Regions from separate parts of the Homo sapiens genome. Here region 2 is linked to region 1. The links come from fine-mapping of genetic effects on gene expression. Tissue or cell type: stomach. Region 1 holds a variant in brackets; the other region holds the start of a gene. All regions are shown on one strand. Distances are from middle to middle.

Region 1 (8,106 bases):
AGCATCGAGCATGGGAGAAAGATGTAGACTGGGAGACTAGGCCAGTCTCTCTTTTCACATTTTTCTGCCTGCTTATATTCTGCCACACTGGCAGCTGATTAGATTGTGCCCACCCAGATTAAGGGTGGATCTGCCTTCTCCAGTCCCTGACTCAAATGTTAATCTCTTTTGATAACACCCTCACAGACACCCAGGATCAATACTTGGTATCCTTCAATCCAATCAAGTTGACACTCAGTATTAACTGTCACAATGCTGCAACCACAAAAGTGAGCAATTCCAGCAGACACCATAGAGCCCATGAGCTTAAAATATTTTCTTTTTTTTAAATTATACTTTAAGTTCTGGGGTACACGTACAGAACGTGCAGTTTTCTTACATAGGTATACACATGCCATGGTAGTTTCCTGCACCCATCAACCCATCACCTACATTAGGTATTTCTCCTAATGCTATCCCTCGCCCTGCCCCCACCCCCTGACAGGCCCCAGTGTGTTATGTTCCCCTCCCTGTGTCCATGTGTTCTCATTGTTCAACTCCCACTTATGAGTGAGAACATGCGGTGTTTGATTTTCTGTTCTTGTGTTAGTTTGCTGAGAATGATGGTTTCTAGCTTCATCCATGTCCCTGCAAAGGACATGAACTCATCCTTTTTTATGGCTGCATAGTATGCTGTGGCATATATGTGCCACATTTTCTTTATCCAGTCTATCATTGATGGACATTTGGGTTGGTTCCAAGTCTTTGCTATTGTGAATAGTACCACAATAAACATACATGTGCATGTGTCTTTATAGTAGAATGATTTATAATCCTTTGGGTATATACCCAGCAATGGGATTGCTGGGTCAAATGGTATTTCTAGTTCTAGATCCTTGAGGAATTGCCCACTGTCTTCCACAATGGTTGAACTAATTTACACTCCCAATGTTTTTACACAACAGTGTAAAAGCATTCCTATTTCTCCACATCCTCTCCAGCATCTGTTGTTTCCTGACTTTTTAATGATCACCATTCTAACTGGTGTGAGATGGTATCTCATTGTGGTTTTGATTTGCATTTCTCTAATGACCAGTGATGATCAGCATTTTCTTATATGTTTTTTGGCTGCATGAATGTCTTCTTTTGAGAAGTATCTGTTCATGTATTTTGCCCACTTTTTGATGGGGTTGTTTTTTTTTTCCTTGTAAATTTGTTTAAGTTCTTTGTAGATTCTGGGTATTAGCCCTTTGCCAGATGGATAGATTGCAAAAATTTTCTCCCATTCTGTAGGTTGCCTGTACACTCTGATGATAGTTTCTTTTGCTGTACAGAAGATCTTTAGTTTAATTAGATCCCATCTGTCAATTTTGGCTTTTGTTGCCATTGCTTTTCGTGTTTTGGACATGAAGTCTTTGCCCATGGCTATGTCCTGAATGGTATCGCCTAGGTTTTCTTCTAGGACTTTTATGGTTTTAGGTCTTATGTTTAAGTCTTTAATCCATCTTGTGTTAATTTTTGTATAAGGTGTGAGGAAGGGATCCACTTTCAGTTTTCTGCATGTGGCTAGCCAGTTTTTCCAGCAGCATTTATTAAATAGGGAATCCTTTCCCCATTGCTTGTTTGTGTCAGGTTTGTCAAAGATCAGAGGGTTGTAAATGTGTGGTGTTATTTCTGAGGCCTCTGTTCTGTTCCATTGGTCTATATATCTGTTTTGGTATCAGTACCATGCTGTTTTGGTTACTGAAGCCTTGTAGTATTGTTTGAAGTCAGGTAGCATGATGGCTCCAGCTTTGCTCTTTTTGCTTAGGATTGTCTTGGCTATGCGGGCTCTTTTTTATTTGATTTGATTTGATGTGAAGCTTAAAGTAGTTTTTTTCCAATTCTGTGAAAAGAGTCAATGGTAGCTTGATGGGGATAGCTTTGGATCTATAAATTACTTTGGGCATTATGGCCATTTTCATGATATTGATTCTTCCTATTCATGAGCGTGGAATGTTTTTCCATTTGTGTCCTCTGTTATTTCCTTGATCAGTGGTTTGTAGTTCTCTTTGAAGAGGTCCTTCACATCCCTTGTAAGTTGTATTCCTGGTATTTTATTCTCTTAGCAGCAATTGTGAATGGGAGTTCACTCATGATTTGGCTCTCTGTTTGTCTGTTATTTGTATATAGGAACGCTTGTGATTTTTCCACATTTATTTTGTATCCTGAGACTGCTGAAGTTGCTTATCAGTTAAGAAGATTTGGGGCTGAGATGATGAGGTTTTCTAAATATGCAATCATGTCATCTGCAAACAGAGACAATTTGACTTCCTCTCTTCCTATTTGAATACCCTTTATTTCTTTCTCTTGTCTGATTGCCCTGGCCAGGACTTCCAATGCTGTGTTGAACAGGAGTGGTGAGAGAGGGCATCCTTGTCTTACGCCGGTTTTCAAAGGGAATGCTTCCAATTTTTTGCCCATTCAGTGTTACATTAGCTGTGGATTTGTCATAAATAGCTTATTATTTTGAGATATGTTCCATTGATACCTAGTTTATTGAGAGTTTTTAGCATGAAGTCGTGTTGAATTTTGTCGAAAGCCTTTTCTGCATCTATTGAGATAATCATGTGGTTTTTGTCATTGGTTCTGTTTATGTGATGGATTACATTTATTGATTTGCATATGTTGAACCAGCCTTGCATCCCAGGGGTGAAGCCAACTTGATCATGGTGGATAAGCTTTTTGATGTGCTGCTGGATTCGGTTTTCCAGTATTTTATTGAGGATTTTTGCATCGATGTTCATCAGGGATATTGGCCTGAAATTTTCTTTTTTTGTTGTGTCTCTGCCAGGTTTTGGTATCAGGATGATGCTGGCCTCATAAAATGAGTTAGAGAGGATTCCCTCTTTTTCTATTGCTTGGAATAGTTTTAGAAGAAATGATACCAGCAACTCCTTGTAGCTCTGGTAGAATTCGGCTGTGAATCCGTCTGTTCCTGGACTTTTTTTGGTTGGTAGGCTATTAACTACTGCCTCAATTTCAGAACTTGTTACTGGTCTATTCAGGGATTTGACTTCTTCCTGGTTTAGACTTGAGAGAGTGTATTTTCCCAGGAATTTATCAATTTCTTCTAGATTTTCTAGTTTATTTGCTTAGAGGTGTTTATAGTATTCTCTGATGGTAGTTTGTATTTCTGCGGGATCAGTAGTGATATCCCCTATATTATTTTTTATTGCATCTATTTGATTCTTCTCTCTTTTCTTCTTTATTAGTCTGGCTAGCAGTCTATGTATTTTGTAGATCTTTAAAAAAAAGCTCCTGTATTCATTGATTTTTTTAAGGGTTTTTCTTGTCTCTATCTCCTTCAGTTCTGCTCTGATCTTTGTTATTTTTTGTCTTCTGCTAGCTTTTGAATTTGTTTCCTCTTGCTTCTCTAGTTCGTTTAATTTTGATGTTAAGATGTCGATTTTAGATCTTTCCTGCTTTCTCTTGTGGGCATTTAATGCAATAAATGTCCCTCTACACACGGCTTTAAATATGTCCCAGAGATTCTGGTAGCCTTTGTTCTCATTGGTTTCAAAGAACATCTTTATTTCTGTCTTCATTTTGTTATTTACCAGTAGTCATTCAGGAGCAAGTTGTTTAGTTCCCATGTAGTTGTGTGGTTTTGAATGAGTTTCTTAATCCTGAGTTCTAATTTAATTATACTGTGGTCTGAGAGACCGTTTGTTATGATTTCCATTCTTTTGCATTTGCTAAGGAGTGTTTTACTTCCATTTATGTGGTCAATTTTAGAATAAGTGTGATGAAGTGCTGAGAAGAATGTATATTCTGTTGATTTGGGTGGAGAGTTCTGTAGATGTCTATTAGGTCTGCCTGGTCTAGAGCTGAGTTCACGTCCTGAATATCCTTGTTAATTTTCTGTCTCGTTGATCTGTCTAATATTGACAGTGGGGGGTTAAACTCTTCCACTATTATTGTGTGGGAGTTTAAGTCTCTTTGTAGGTCTCTAAGAACTTGCTTTATGAATCTGGGTGCTCCTGTTTTGGGTGCATTTATATTTAGGATAGTTAGCTCTTATTGTTGCATTGATCCCTTTCCCATTATGTAATGGCCTTCTTTGTCTGTTTTGATCTTTGTTGGTTTAAAGTCTGTTTTATCAGAGATTAGGATTGCAACTCCTGCTTTTTTTCTGCTTTCCATTTGCTTGGTAAACCTTCCTCCATCCCTGTATTTT[G/A]AGCCTATGTGTGTCTTTGCACGAGAGATGGGTCTCCTGAATACAGCACACTGATGGATCTTGACTCTTTATCCAATTTGCCAGGCTATATCTTTTAATTGGGGCATTTAGCCCATTTACGTTTAAGGTTATTATTGTTATGTGTGAATTTGATCCTGCCATTATGATGCTAGCTGGTTATTTTGCCCATTAGTTGATGCAGTTTCTTCATAGTGCCGATGGTCTTTACAATTTGGTATGTTTTTGCAGTGGCTGGTACTGGTTGCTTCTTTCCATATTTAGTGCTTCCTTCAGGAGCTCTTGTAAGGCAGGCCTGGTGGTGACAAAATCTCTCAGCATTTGGTTGTCTGTAAAGGATTTTATTTTTCCTTTGCTTATGAAGCTTAATTTGGCTGGTTATGAAATTCTGGGTTGAAAATTCTTTTCTTTAAGAATGTTGAATGTTAGCCCCCACTCTTTTCTGGCTTGTAGGGTTTCTGCAGAGAGATCCACTGTTAGCCTGATGGGCTTCCCTTTGTGGGTAGCTCAACCTTTTTCTCTGGCTGCCCTTAACATGTTTTCCTTCATTTCACCCTTGGTGAATCTGATGATTATGTGTCTTGGCGTTGCTCTTCTCAAGGAGTATCTTTGAGGTGTTCTCTGTATTTCCTGAATTTGAATGTTGGCCTGCCTTGCTAGGTTGGGGAAGTTCTCCTGGATAATATCCTGAAGAGTGTTTTCCAACTTGGTTCCATTCTCCCCATCACTTTCAGGTACACCAATCAAATGTAGATTTGGTCTTTTCACATAGTCCCATATTTCTTGGAGGCTTTGTTTGTTCCTTTTATTCTTTTTTCTCTAATCTTGTCTTTTCACTTTATTTCATTAAGTTGATCTTCAATCTCTGATATCCTTTTTTCTGCTTGATCAATTCAGCTATTGTTACTTGTGTATGCTTCACAAGTTCTCGTGCTGTGTTTTTCAGCTCCATTAGGTCATTTATGTTCTTCTCTAAATGGTTATTCTGGTTAGCAATTTGTCTAACCTTTTTTCAAGGTTCTTACCTTCCTTGCATTGGGTTAGAACATGCTCCTTTAGCTTGGAGGAGTTTGTTGCTACCCACCTTCTGAATCCTACTTCTGTCAATTCATCAAACTCATTCTCCATGCAGTTTTGTTCCCTTGCTGGTGAGGAGTTGTGATCCTTTGGAGGAGAAGAGGCGTTCTGGTTTTTGGAATTTTCAGCCTTTTTGAGCTGGTTTCTCCCCGTCTTTGTGGATTTATCTACCTTTGGTCTTTGATGTTGGTGACCTTTGGGTGGGGGTCTCTGAGTGGATGTGCTCTTCCTTTCTGTTTGTTAGTTTTCCTTCTAACTGTCAGGCCTCTCTGCTGCAGGTCTGCTGGAGTTTGCTGGAGGTCCACTCCAGACCCTATTTGCCTGGGTATCACCAGCAGAGGCTGCAGAACAACAAAGATTGCTCCCTGTTCTTTCCTCTGGAAGCTTCCTCCCAGAGGGGCACCTCTCAGATGCCAGCCAGAGCTCTCCTGTATGAGGTGTCTGTCAGCCCCTACTGGGAGGTGTCTTCCAGTCATGATACACGGGCTTCAGGGGCCCACTTCAGGAGGCAGTCTGACCCTTAGCAGAGCTCGAACACTATGCTGGGAGGTCTGCTGTTCTCTTCAGAGCCGTCAGGCAAGGACGTTTAAGTGTGCTGAAGCTGCACCCACAGCTGCCCCTTCCCCCTGGTGCTCTGTCCCAGGGAGATAGGAATTTTATCTATAAGTCCCTGACTCGGGCTGCTGCCTTTTTTTCAGAGATGCCCTGCCCAGAGAGGAGAAATCTGGCAGTCTGGCCCCAGCAGCCTTGCTGAGCTGCCATGGGCTCCACCCAGTTCAAACTTCCCTGCAGCTTTATTTACACTGTGAGGGGAAAACCGCGAACTAAAGCCTCAGCAATGGCGGACACCCCTCCCCCCACCAAGCTCCTGCAGCTAGTTCGGTGTCTACCCAAAAGGCTGCCCAGTTTTGTGCTGGAAACCCAGGGCCCTGGTGGTGTAGGCACTGGAGGGGATCTCCTGGTCTGTGAGTTGAGAAAACCATGGGAAAAGCCCAGTTATCTTGGCTGGAGTGCACAGTACTGTCCCTAATGGCTTCCCTTGGCTGGGAGAGGGAGTTCCCAACCCCTTGTGCTTCCTCGGTGAGGTGATGCCCCACCCTGCTTCGGCTCTCCCTCCTTGGGCTGCACCCGCTGTCCAACCAGTCCCAAAGAGATAAACTAGGTACCTCAGTTGGAAATGCAGGAATCACCCACCTTCTGCATCAATCTCGCTGGGAGCCGCATACTGGAGCTGTTCTTATTCGGCCTTCTTGCCAGCAGTCCTTAAAATACTTTCTAACTGGCCCTTGACAGAAAAAGCTTGTTGGCTCTTAATTTAGATCCACAACATATTTGGTTGAAGTTGGATTTTTATATTATCAAATGGACTTTTCACTCCCTAGTGGAAGTCTTTCCTTCTTTCCACAAACATTCATTTAGCAGCTACTATGTGCTAGGCATTGGTGATACACAGAAGAGAAATATGGCTTGCATCCTTCAGGATTTCACAGTTTGGTAGCATTGCCCTCAACTTGCATGGGCTTCCCCATACCAGCAGAGCCATGGGTAAGCTAACTCAACAAACACTTCCTGAATAGAACCTAAAATGTGCCAGATGTTATGTCAGGGATAAGAGACTTATCAATAAACAAGCTCTTGTCTCAGCTCTCAAGGGATTCCTAGTCTTGAAGAGTGGCCACACAGAGAGGTGAGTCACTGACACCATGATCAGCCAACACCATGACATACAGTGAGTACTCACAGATATGGCTGGATGACAGAAGTGCTGTGAGAACCCAGAGGGGTCAGAAAAATACCATTTTTATTTTGGCTCATGAAATATGACTAAGATAGAAGTAGCAAAAAAATCCTGATCTTCATGTTATCTGTAAGGAGACTGTGAAACCACCCCTTTCTTTTTCTTGGCAAGCCTCGCCACATACCCGGCTATGAGGAATGTGAACACTGGTCATGGTGCTCATTAAATTAGTCATCTTGATAATTACAGGATCTCAGAAATAACTACTAATCAGCCTGAAGAGAGCGCTTCTCTCAGGATTCACTGAAAATGCATCTAAGATAAGGTTGTTAACTCTGCATATATGTTTAAAGGAAGTTATATATGTTTTTTAAAAGTTATATATTTCCTTAAGGGCTCTTACTAACCTAATATGGTATCAGAATGGCAGTTCAGTATTCCTCCCCTACTGCTTTAAAGCTCTATGTCTTGGGAGCAGATGGTAAGGTATTTGAAGTCTCTATCCATAGAGGAATTTTTTCCCTCTCTCAGTAGACTGTTGTGAAACAGCAGGTATGAGAGGACATTTGTCAGGTGGCTGCAGTTACAAAATAAAAGTACTAACAAAGTCAGCTTATTAGAAAAAAGACAGCCAGGCATGAAGTGGTTTATGACAATCCAATAATTAACCAGTGGCCAAAGCCTGTGCTTTTCACATTTGAGTGATGAATAAGAACCTTCCGCATGCAGTAGTAAATCCCAAGTTGAAATATAAATATTACTTGCTTTATTAAGAGGTTTGATCTCCCAGGCTGTTGATATTGCTAATATTTTATTTTGGTTTTATATCTTGGTGTTTTCACTGATTTGATTTCAAATAACCAAACTGGTTATTTTATTTGCTTTTAATTGACTACATGACCCCATTACACCACTGGTTTTCTCTTTGTAGACTCTCCCATTTCTTTTTTTTTTCTTTTTTAAATCTAGAAATCTAGAATTAACTAAGAGTTTAGGAGAACGGTTCTGCATTTTGCCTGACTGGAACAACTGAGGAAGTGAGTAGGTTGGAACATGACTTATTTGAGATTTCTAC
Region 2 (8,106 bases), 880 kb before region 1:
CTTATCCACGTATTTCCTTACCAATGAAACAGGTATTGAAAACAGCCCTACTTGCCATTCCGTCCCCTCCCAGGGTTATTGTGAGGACCACATACGACAAATGATATGAAAGAGCCTTACAAAATATAAAGCAATATATACACATTAGGCATGTTGTCATCATCACTATTAATTCTATTAAAATCTGCCATCAACTAGCTGAGTTCTGCTTGTTGCTTTCATTTTGCAGAGCAGGGCTTGAAGGGCAGAATTATTCACTGAGCTGCCCAAGGATGTATTTGCTGGTAGCAACGTGGAGAATGTTACAAAATTAGTCATCTCGGCGAGGGGGAGGTGTTCATATTCGACCAGAAAAATAAAAGTACTTTCAACCAAAAACTATTCTGGCCACTTTTCCTTCAGATGAAGCCTTTTTTCTTTCTACCAGGAAAAGAAACCGGTTCAGTGAGTTTTGCATTGTTTAGCTGTTATTGTAATTTATGCCTCACTAGTGGTCACTTGTGACATGTTTTCCTTATATTTTTAACCCCAAATTCTTTTTTTAAATGGAAAACTTTACGTTGAACTCCGTATTGAAACAATGTAATTATAGGGAATGAAAAAATGGGTTATTACTTGATAGCAATTATTCCTATGCTGATTCCTCCGGGATAGAATCGTGCACTGTTTAAGTCCTTGGGCTCCGCTATGAGCCATACCTGGGCTTCAGTGCAATTAAGTTACTAGCTAGCTTTGTGATCTTGGGTAACTTGCTTCACTGCTCTTGGCCTCCGTTTACCCAACTTCAAAACAAGGATGATTTACATCACTGGACTCATGGGGCTGTAGCAAAAAATCAGTGATAAAATCTACATAGAGTGCTTGGCCCTGTGCTTGTGTGCAGGGAGAACTTGGTAAATACTAGCTATCAGTATAATTTAGGAAAATCTAAAAGAATTCAGGAGATGAGCCCCAAGGAAATGGAATAAACACTTCCAGGGGCTTTTCTGGTCCTTAGTGGGTGGCATAGATCAAATCACATGGTAGAGGCCCTCCCCTCACACCTACCACATTTATTTGGAGACAAATCTGGTTTCTGTTACTACCATGTGAAGGGTAAACATTGGGAATAGCAGTTGGTTCTCAGACAGCAAGGAAAAAGTGGGCTCACAGAGGAGGAGTCACAGGAGGGCAGCGGGAGGGCTGGGGTGGGCTGTGGGGAGGACTGGAAGGGTGAGGACCTGGTGCTGGGGGCCTGCCCAGGTCACACCCACATCTTCTTGGGGATAGAAGATTCCAGATGATGTGGGTTTATTGTGTGTGGTGATGGATTTTTCAGGGGACACAGACCTTTTCCTCTTTTTTTTCCTCTCTTCCTTTTCCCAATCTGGGTATCTGTGGAGACCAAGCTCTAGTCCTAGGTCTGGCTTGGCTGGGCCCTGTATTAGTCCATTTTGCATTGCTGTAAAGGAATACCTGGGGCTGGGTAATTAAAGAAAAAAGTTTTATTTGGTTGGGTGTGGTGGCTCACTCTGCAATCCCAGTACTTCGGGAGGCTGAGGTGGGAGAATTGCTTGAGACCAGCCTGCCCAACATGGTGAGACCCCCATCTTGAGAAAAAAAAAAGTTTTATTTGGCTCATGGTTCTGCAGGCTATACCAGCATAACACCAGCATCTGCTTGGCTTCTGATGAGGCCTCAGGAAGCTTCCAATCATGGTGGAAGGTGCAGGCATATCACATGGTGAGTGAGGAAGCAAGGAAGAGGAGCGAGGTCCCAGACTCTTCATCAACCAGATCTCTTGTGAACCCATTACCGTGGGGTGGACACCAAGCCATTCCTGAGGGATCCATCCCCATGATCCAAACACTGCCCACCAGATCCCACCTCCAACGTTGAAGAACACATTTCCACAGCTCTAAAAAAGAAATTATGTCTGTGAGACTTCTGCTCTATGCCAGGCACTTTAAATCCATGATCGTGTTGGATCCTGTGCCATGGGTGGATCACTACCCTATGACAGATGAGGAAACCAAGACTCAGAGAAGGTGTATTCCTCCATGAGCCCCACACACAGCTGGTGCACAGCAGAGCCAGAAGGTAAACCACCATCTGACTTACTCCAAAACCCAGCCTCTGCCAGGTGTCAGCTCAGAGCGCTATACCATCTTTGGCCTTGGTTTTGTATGGCTTTTTGTGACATTTTTGTGACATTTCCATGGCTCAGCACCCTACACATAGGTCTCCTAGAACTATTTGTGGATTTAAAATTTTAATAATGGTGAAAATAGCTGACATTTACTGAGTTCCTGCCACCAGTGGGCACACAAGCAGGTTGAGCCACTTGCTCAAGTTCTCATGAGCTCAAGGCTCGTGGCAGAGCCAGGAGAGGATCCAGTCTGTCGTACTCCAAGGTGTATGGTTTTAACTTTCATTTTTCTTGAAGAATCTAGACTTGCAGCAGGGATGTTAATCTCTGTGCCCATCTTTCTCAGGTAACGTGGGGCTTTTGTGGGTTTGAACTAGTTAGAAGAGGACAGCAAAGGGCCTGAACATGTCCAGGGGAGGCGTGAGGCAGTGGGGTGATGGCAAGGGCTGCGGGCCAGTGGCATCTATTTCTGAACTGGTGACCTCCTGCCTCCGGGTACAAGGCTATAATAAGCCCCATGATTCACCAGTTGGACTTCTCCCTGTCGTTGCTCCAAGCAGGTCTTGTGCTTTGCCACCTGTGGGCCCCAGCTCATGCTGTGTGCTCCAGGAGAACATCCTGCCCCGCCTCACTCCCTTTGCCATACTTGCCTGGGGACGCCCACTGCAGCTGCCATGTCCTCTAGGAAGCCTTGATGGACTAGCATGGATAACCTATTCATTTCTGAGTCCAAACAGAATCATTTATTATAGACTCAGAAAAAGGCAAATGGAAGACTATACCTATTTTGAGAAATTTGGGAACATTTATCTCAGGGGACAGTCAGGGGCCAATACACATTAGTGACAATCTTAGCATATGAAATTCCAGTGATCAGCGACTCTTTAGTGCTTGACTCAGTTTTTACAGAATGAATCTTATTCTACCTTAATTCCACATGAAATGGGTTTGGTCTCCCTTGTAGAATGCAGGAGACTTTGAGCCTGGGTTGGAAGGCTGGTGACCTTGGGTAAGTCACTTCCCATATCTGAGCCTCTGCTCCTTTGTCTGTGAAAGAGTGGTGCTTATACCTATGTTGTTAGGTTGTTGGGGGATATAAAAGGGTAATAACAGTTGCTACTGTTTATTGAGTGCTTGCTATGCACCAGAGACTGTGCTAAGCTTAGCTTTGCATTTTTCTTTGATCTTTTCAAGAGCTCCTCTCATTCCCGATGTTCCTTACCCTGCAATATTTTTTCCCATAGCACTTTACATTTTGTATGATATTATATAATATACTTACTGTGCTTATTTTTGGTCTTCCTCTCCCAGGGCCTCTTGCCTCGTACAACTCCAGGGGGCACCATTCACAATGCTTTCTACTCCAGGGGTGCTTTTTACTAAGAATATTAGCATGAATGGTGGAAACTGCTGGAGTTGTGTGATGTGGAGCCCCGGGAGCTTCAGAAGGTCAGGGATTTTTGTGTGTGCCAGTTCTGATCATTGCTGTATCCCTGTACCCAGAACGGTGCTAGACCTATAGTAAGCATTCAGTAAATATCTGTTGAAAGAATGAATAACATAGCCTCCAAAGAGAGCTGATTTTACTATCTAGGAAACTGAGGCTCAGTCTGACTTATGAATTTGCCCAGAGCCCCACAAGCCAATGACCCACCCAGCTGTTCTGCCTCCAGTGTGCCTGCTCTGCGTGGCTTTGCTAAGCTGCATGCCTTTAACTCCTCGCATCGTCTCTGCCACCAAGTAACTGCTCAACAAATATTGATGCTTTTCCCTACATGGGTCAGGCCCTCTGCTAGACTATCCCAGTAGAGTGACAAACCATCATATAGCTGTTGATTCCAGAAACTGAATTAAATTGCACAGTGCAAAAAAAGGGAGGATCTTAAGTTTTTGGAAGAAAAATCCCTAACCCAAGTGCTAATGTTTGGAGTTTGCAGAAGCCTCTCAAGACTTACCAACCCGATTACTTTTCCTGCTGCCTTCCCTTTTGTGAGCGTTTCTTCCCCTTTTTGCTTGCAGTGAGTTCTGCTCTCCTGTAGGCTACAATGTGTCAGTTGTTATAAAATCCGGGAGGCGGAGTCTAGTGACGTGAGCAGTGGGGGAGAGCTCAGCCAGCCCTGCAGGGCGAGCAGTCCAGCCTTGTGTTCACCGGAGCTTAAGCGTTGCAGCAGGAAAACTTCCATCTCGCTCTCCTGGCTTTGATCCTCACTGGACATCAGACCAGAGGCACCGAAGGGAGGGAGGATGCGAGATGACCGGCCCTTTGGCAACCTGACCATCGACTTAGCAGAGCCTTCAAAAGCAAGCCAGGGGCTGGCTGCACGACCAAAGAGGCGCCGCGCCTCTCGTGGATGTGTGTGTGTGAGTGATCCAGCGAGTGTGTGTGCGTGTGAGGGTGTGTGTGTGTATGCCTGTGTGCACAGCACAACTGTGTGCGTGTCCCGGTGAGTGTGCCTGTGCATGCGTGAGTGTGTGTACGTGTGCATGTGTGTGTGAGTGCGCTTGGTTATTACTATTATTATTATTTTTGGAAGAAAAATCTTTGAAAATCTGGGGCAGGTTACTGTGCTCCTAGGGTGATTCTTCTTTTGCAAGAGGAGCTGACCAGGGCAAGCTACTAGAGCCATTTCTCGGCAAGTAAAGAGATTTTTCCTTCCAGAAGGAGAAGGATTTTTCTCCCTGCTCTGCAGCCAAGTGAAAGAGATTAGTCCCTAAACCTGTGAAATCGACCAGAGCTGTGTGATTACCAGGGCTTGAGAGAGGACTCGAAAAGAAAAGGAGAAATAAATCAAACAGCCTGTCAGTTCCTTTGGCCACGTCAGAAGATGTCATCTCAAACTAAGTTCAAGAAAGACAAAGAGATCATTGCTGAATATGAAGCCCAAATAAAAGGTGAGATGCGGGCTGGGAGAGTTTTCCTTCTCCTCCCCTTTCGTTTTTCTCTTGTTCTGGTTCCCATCCCCCGCTGCCCCCCGTTTTCCTCTCTGCCATTATGAAATGTTATGCATCAATAATCTTTTTGTGAGGAGTAACAGTGGCAGCCGCACAAGTCCGGACTGGTTTCAACTGCAGATAGCGCTGGGGCTGGGAGTGTGGATTATGGAATGGGCAGCAGTCTCTGCATTGCAGGTGTGTGAGGAGGATCCTATGCCTGACTTTAGGAGTGTCGCTGATACCCCATCATCTTGGCGGTGACATGTCACTCTAAGGCCATTTTGATAGTCACTACCTCCACCCCTTCCCTGCCATGGTAAAAGCCCTTTAATATTGGGGTATTTTTTTACCATCTGCTCTTTTTTTCCTCCCCCTTTTTGGTTTCTGTTGGTGGTGGTGGTTTTGCCTCCGCCTCTTTCTCTGGGCCGGAATTCACATGCATGTGCACAGCGAGGCAGCATCCCTGGGCGGCACTTCTTTGTCGGTGTCTCTGGGCTGGCCTGGGTTGCCATGGATTAACTGTTATGGGGCATATTGATCCAGACTAATGCAGGCATTTGGGCATAAAAAGGGAGCTTGGTGCAGAAAATGTATTATCTCGCAGTGTGCAGCCCAATCACTCTGTGCCCTGGCGTTTAGGTTCATCAGCTTTCATTCAAAGCCAACACCTCGGCATGCCGTTTGGGCTGGTCAGCGCTGCCTGGCTTCCGGGGTTCCAGGAGAAGCCTGCCGGGAGGGCGAGATGACCTCTGGCTGCTGGTTGCACCTTCTGTGCCACCGGGTGTATACTTCTTTCAGAAGCCGCTCCCTAAATCCACGCTAGCCAGGCGAAATAGGAAAGGGAACACAATTGCATGGCTAAATGCGGGCTTGCCGCATCCTCATTCAGGCCAGACTGGGGCTTCTCCCACCCCTACACGTTCTAGGCTCAGCTTTGGCAAGGAAAATCTAAAAGCTCCATCCAGCAGGCTCCTCCTTTCTCTGAGGATGTGCCCTGTGGGAAGCCTGGGCTCGTGCCTCTTGGCGTCCGCTTTCTTTCTGGTCATGGTTCTCCTTGCTGCGACACAGGGTGTGTTGTGGCCTCTCCTAGAAAGAGTAAAGACAAAATGCATCTTCAGCGGACCTTGAGGCCTATCTTTGAGGTTATGCACAGGCTGTTGAGCAAGTTGGGTATTTGGGGCTCAAGCAACCTGAGGTTGCCACACCTGCTTCTGGGCGCTGCTGCAACTGAAGACCCAATGACCCAGGGAGCTGGGTGGCCTCCTTAAAAGCAGCGGGAAGGCTGGGCACCGCAGCTGCCATACACGCTTCAGATGCTTGGGAAACTTTGGGAGTGGAGCAGCCACGGGGGGAGGGATCTGTTTTTTTTCCAGTCTCACCAACAGTCTTTTTGCCTTTTAGTCCTGGTCAAAAGCCCAGCGTGCTCATCACCTCTGGGCATATCCTAGGGCAAGAGGAGCAGAAAACCCTGCTCTTCCCTGGTCTCCTGTCTTTGGTTTTTCAGTTCAATGTGGAAAACAGTGACTTACGATGTCTCAGCCTTGCTGAAAATTTAGAAATAAGCGCTTTATTGGTCAGAGATTTTAATTCACCCAACTGCTCAATACAAAAGCCTAGTTTCAATCTTTGAATAGACTCTTTTTAGGGAGTTTATGTTTTATAAAATGAATTTGGCCAATTATTATTATTTTATAAAAATTAAGGTTGCCATGAAAATGCCTTGAGAGAGAAGGGGATGTTGAGTTTTGGACAGTTCAGGTTTTATGATATTTTCTTGGTAGGAAATGTGCTTATCTCATTTTGGAAGGATTGCTACTACTGGGCCAGTGAACTTTTCTTCAGGGCCAGTTAGGCATTAATTGCCCTGGCTGATCCTTTTGCTTTTTACCTTTCATCTTTTATTTTAACAACTAAGCAGCGAGTACCCTGAGTTTTATCAGAAATACACCAATTACCAGGCATTCATCAGGAAATGTGTCCAAATGATCTTGTCTCTTCCAAATACTAAATTTCCTTGCATTCTGGCTAAAGGAGTTACATCTTATTCCTTTAGAATTGACACCCACAAGGTCAGGTCAGGATATGGCTGTCCCTGAAACCCTCTGGAATCTTTTCTTTTAAAATTCTGTGTGTTAATCACCATCATAATTATTGATGTGTGTCTAGGGCCCTGCATTTTCTATGGCTAACTCCCAGACATCACTTACTCTTGGCCCACACAATGTACAGTAGGGTTAGTGTGAACTCAGTTTCAGAGACAAGGAAACTGAGGCCCAGTTAATGTTAAATGACTTGCCCAAGGTCACAAGGCCGATTTTCTCCCAGGCTTGTGTTCCCTGACACATTGTTTGCCCGAAGCTGCCCCTTGAAGGATTGATGTCAGCAGCAGATGGCAGTTTTGTGGGGGGACTGGCAGCCTCTTGATGGAGTTCCATTGTTTACCCTCTTACTTTCATCCCGTTGCCTTTGTTGCATGCCTCTGAAGAACATTTGACCAGTCACCAAAAACAGTGCCCGAGGCCAATTACCTTTCTCCCTGGGAATCATCTGGCCAGTGGGATGCAAAAAGTCCACCTAGTCAGACAGATTTTGTGCTTTGTGAATTTTGTGAAGGGAACTTTTGATTTTTAAAAACAGTGCTGAGTTCTTTGTTGACTTGTTCCCTTTTATGTCTTTTTCAAGAATTTATAGACCTAACACAAAGGAATGTTTTAGAACAGTATTTTTTCTATTGTAAAATAGAAGGATTCATGCCTTCTCTTGCCTCATCAGATACTTGAAGCCTTTTGATTATGAAGCAGTAGTAAACCATATGCTTGCACATTTCTAGTGATGGGGAACTCACTACCTCCCAAGCCCACGTAGTCTATCATCTTTGGACAGCTCTGGCTCTTGTAAGCATTTTTTCTTTTTTCTTTTGTGACAGAGTCTCTCTGTGTCGTCCAGGCTGGAATGTAGTGATGTCATCTTGACTCACTGCAATCTCCGCCTCTTGGGTTCAAGAGATTCTCCTCCCTCAGCCTCCCGAGTAGCTGGCATTACAG

Evidence for each region. PIP is the estimated chance that this variant, and not a neighbour inherited with it, causes the effect.
Region 2: SRGAP3-AS4 starts here. The variant in region 1 is fine-mapped to the expression of SRGAP3-AS4 in stomach (GTEx, PIP 0.99).

What each region holds. Positions count from the first base shown.
Region 1 is chr3:8,370,261-8,378,366 of GRCh38, reverse strand. All of the region lies in intron 3 of LMCD1-AS1 (LMCD1 antisense RNA 1), which reads left to right. Among named protein-coding and RNA genes, the nearest start is that of LMCD1-AS1, 130 kb to the left of the region's middle. RefSeq lists enhancers at 5,550-6,080, 6,081-6,613. The variant G/A (reference allele first, on the strand shown) is at 4,199.
Region 2 is chr3:9,245,799-9,253,904 of GRCh38, reverse strand. SRGAP3-AS4 (SRGAP3 antisense RNA 4) reads right to left here and starts at 4,149. Exons shown (of 3, transcript NR_146969.1): 1 at 4,084-4,149. It overlaps SRGAP3 (SLIT-ROBO Rho GTPase activating protein 3), which reads left to right and starts at 4,259. Exons shown (of 22, transcript NM_014850.4): 1 at 4,259-5,020. The coding sequence starts at 4,954. RefSeq lists an enhancer at 4,241-4,480.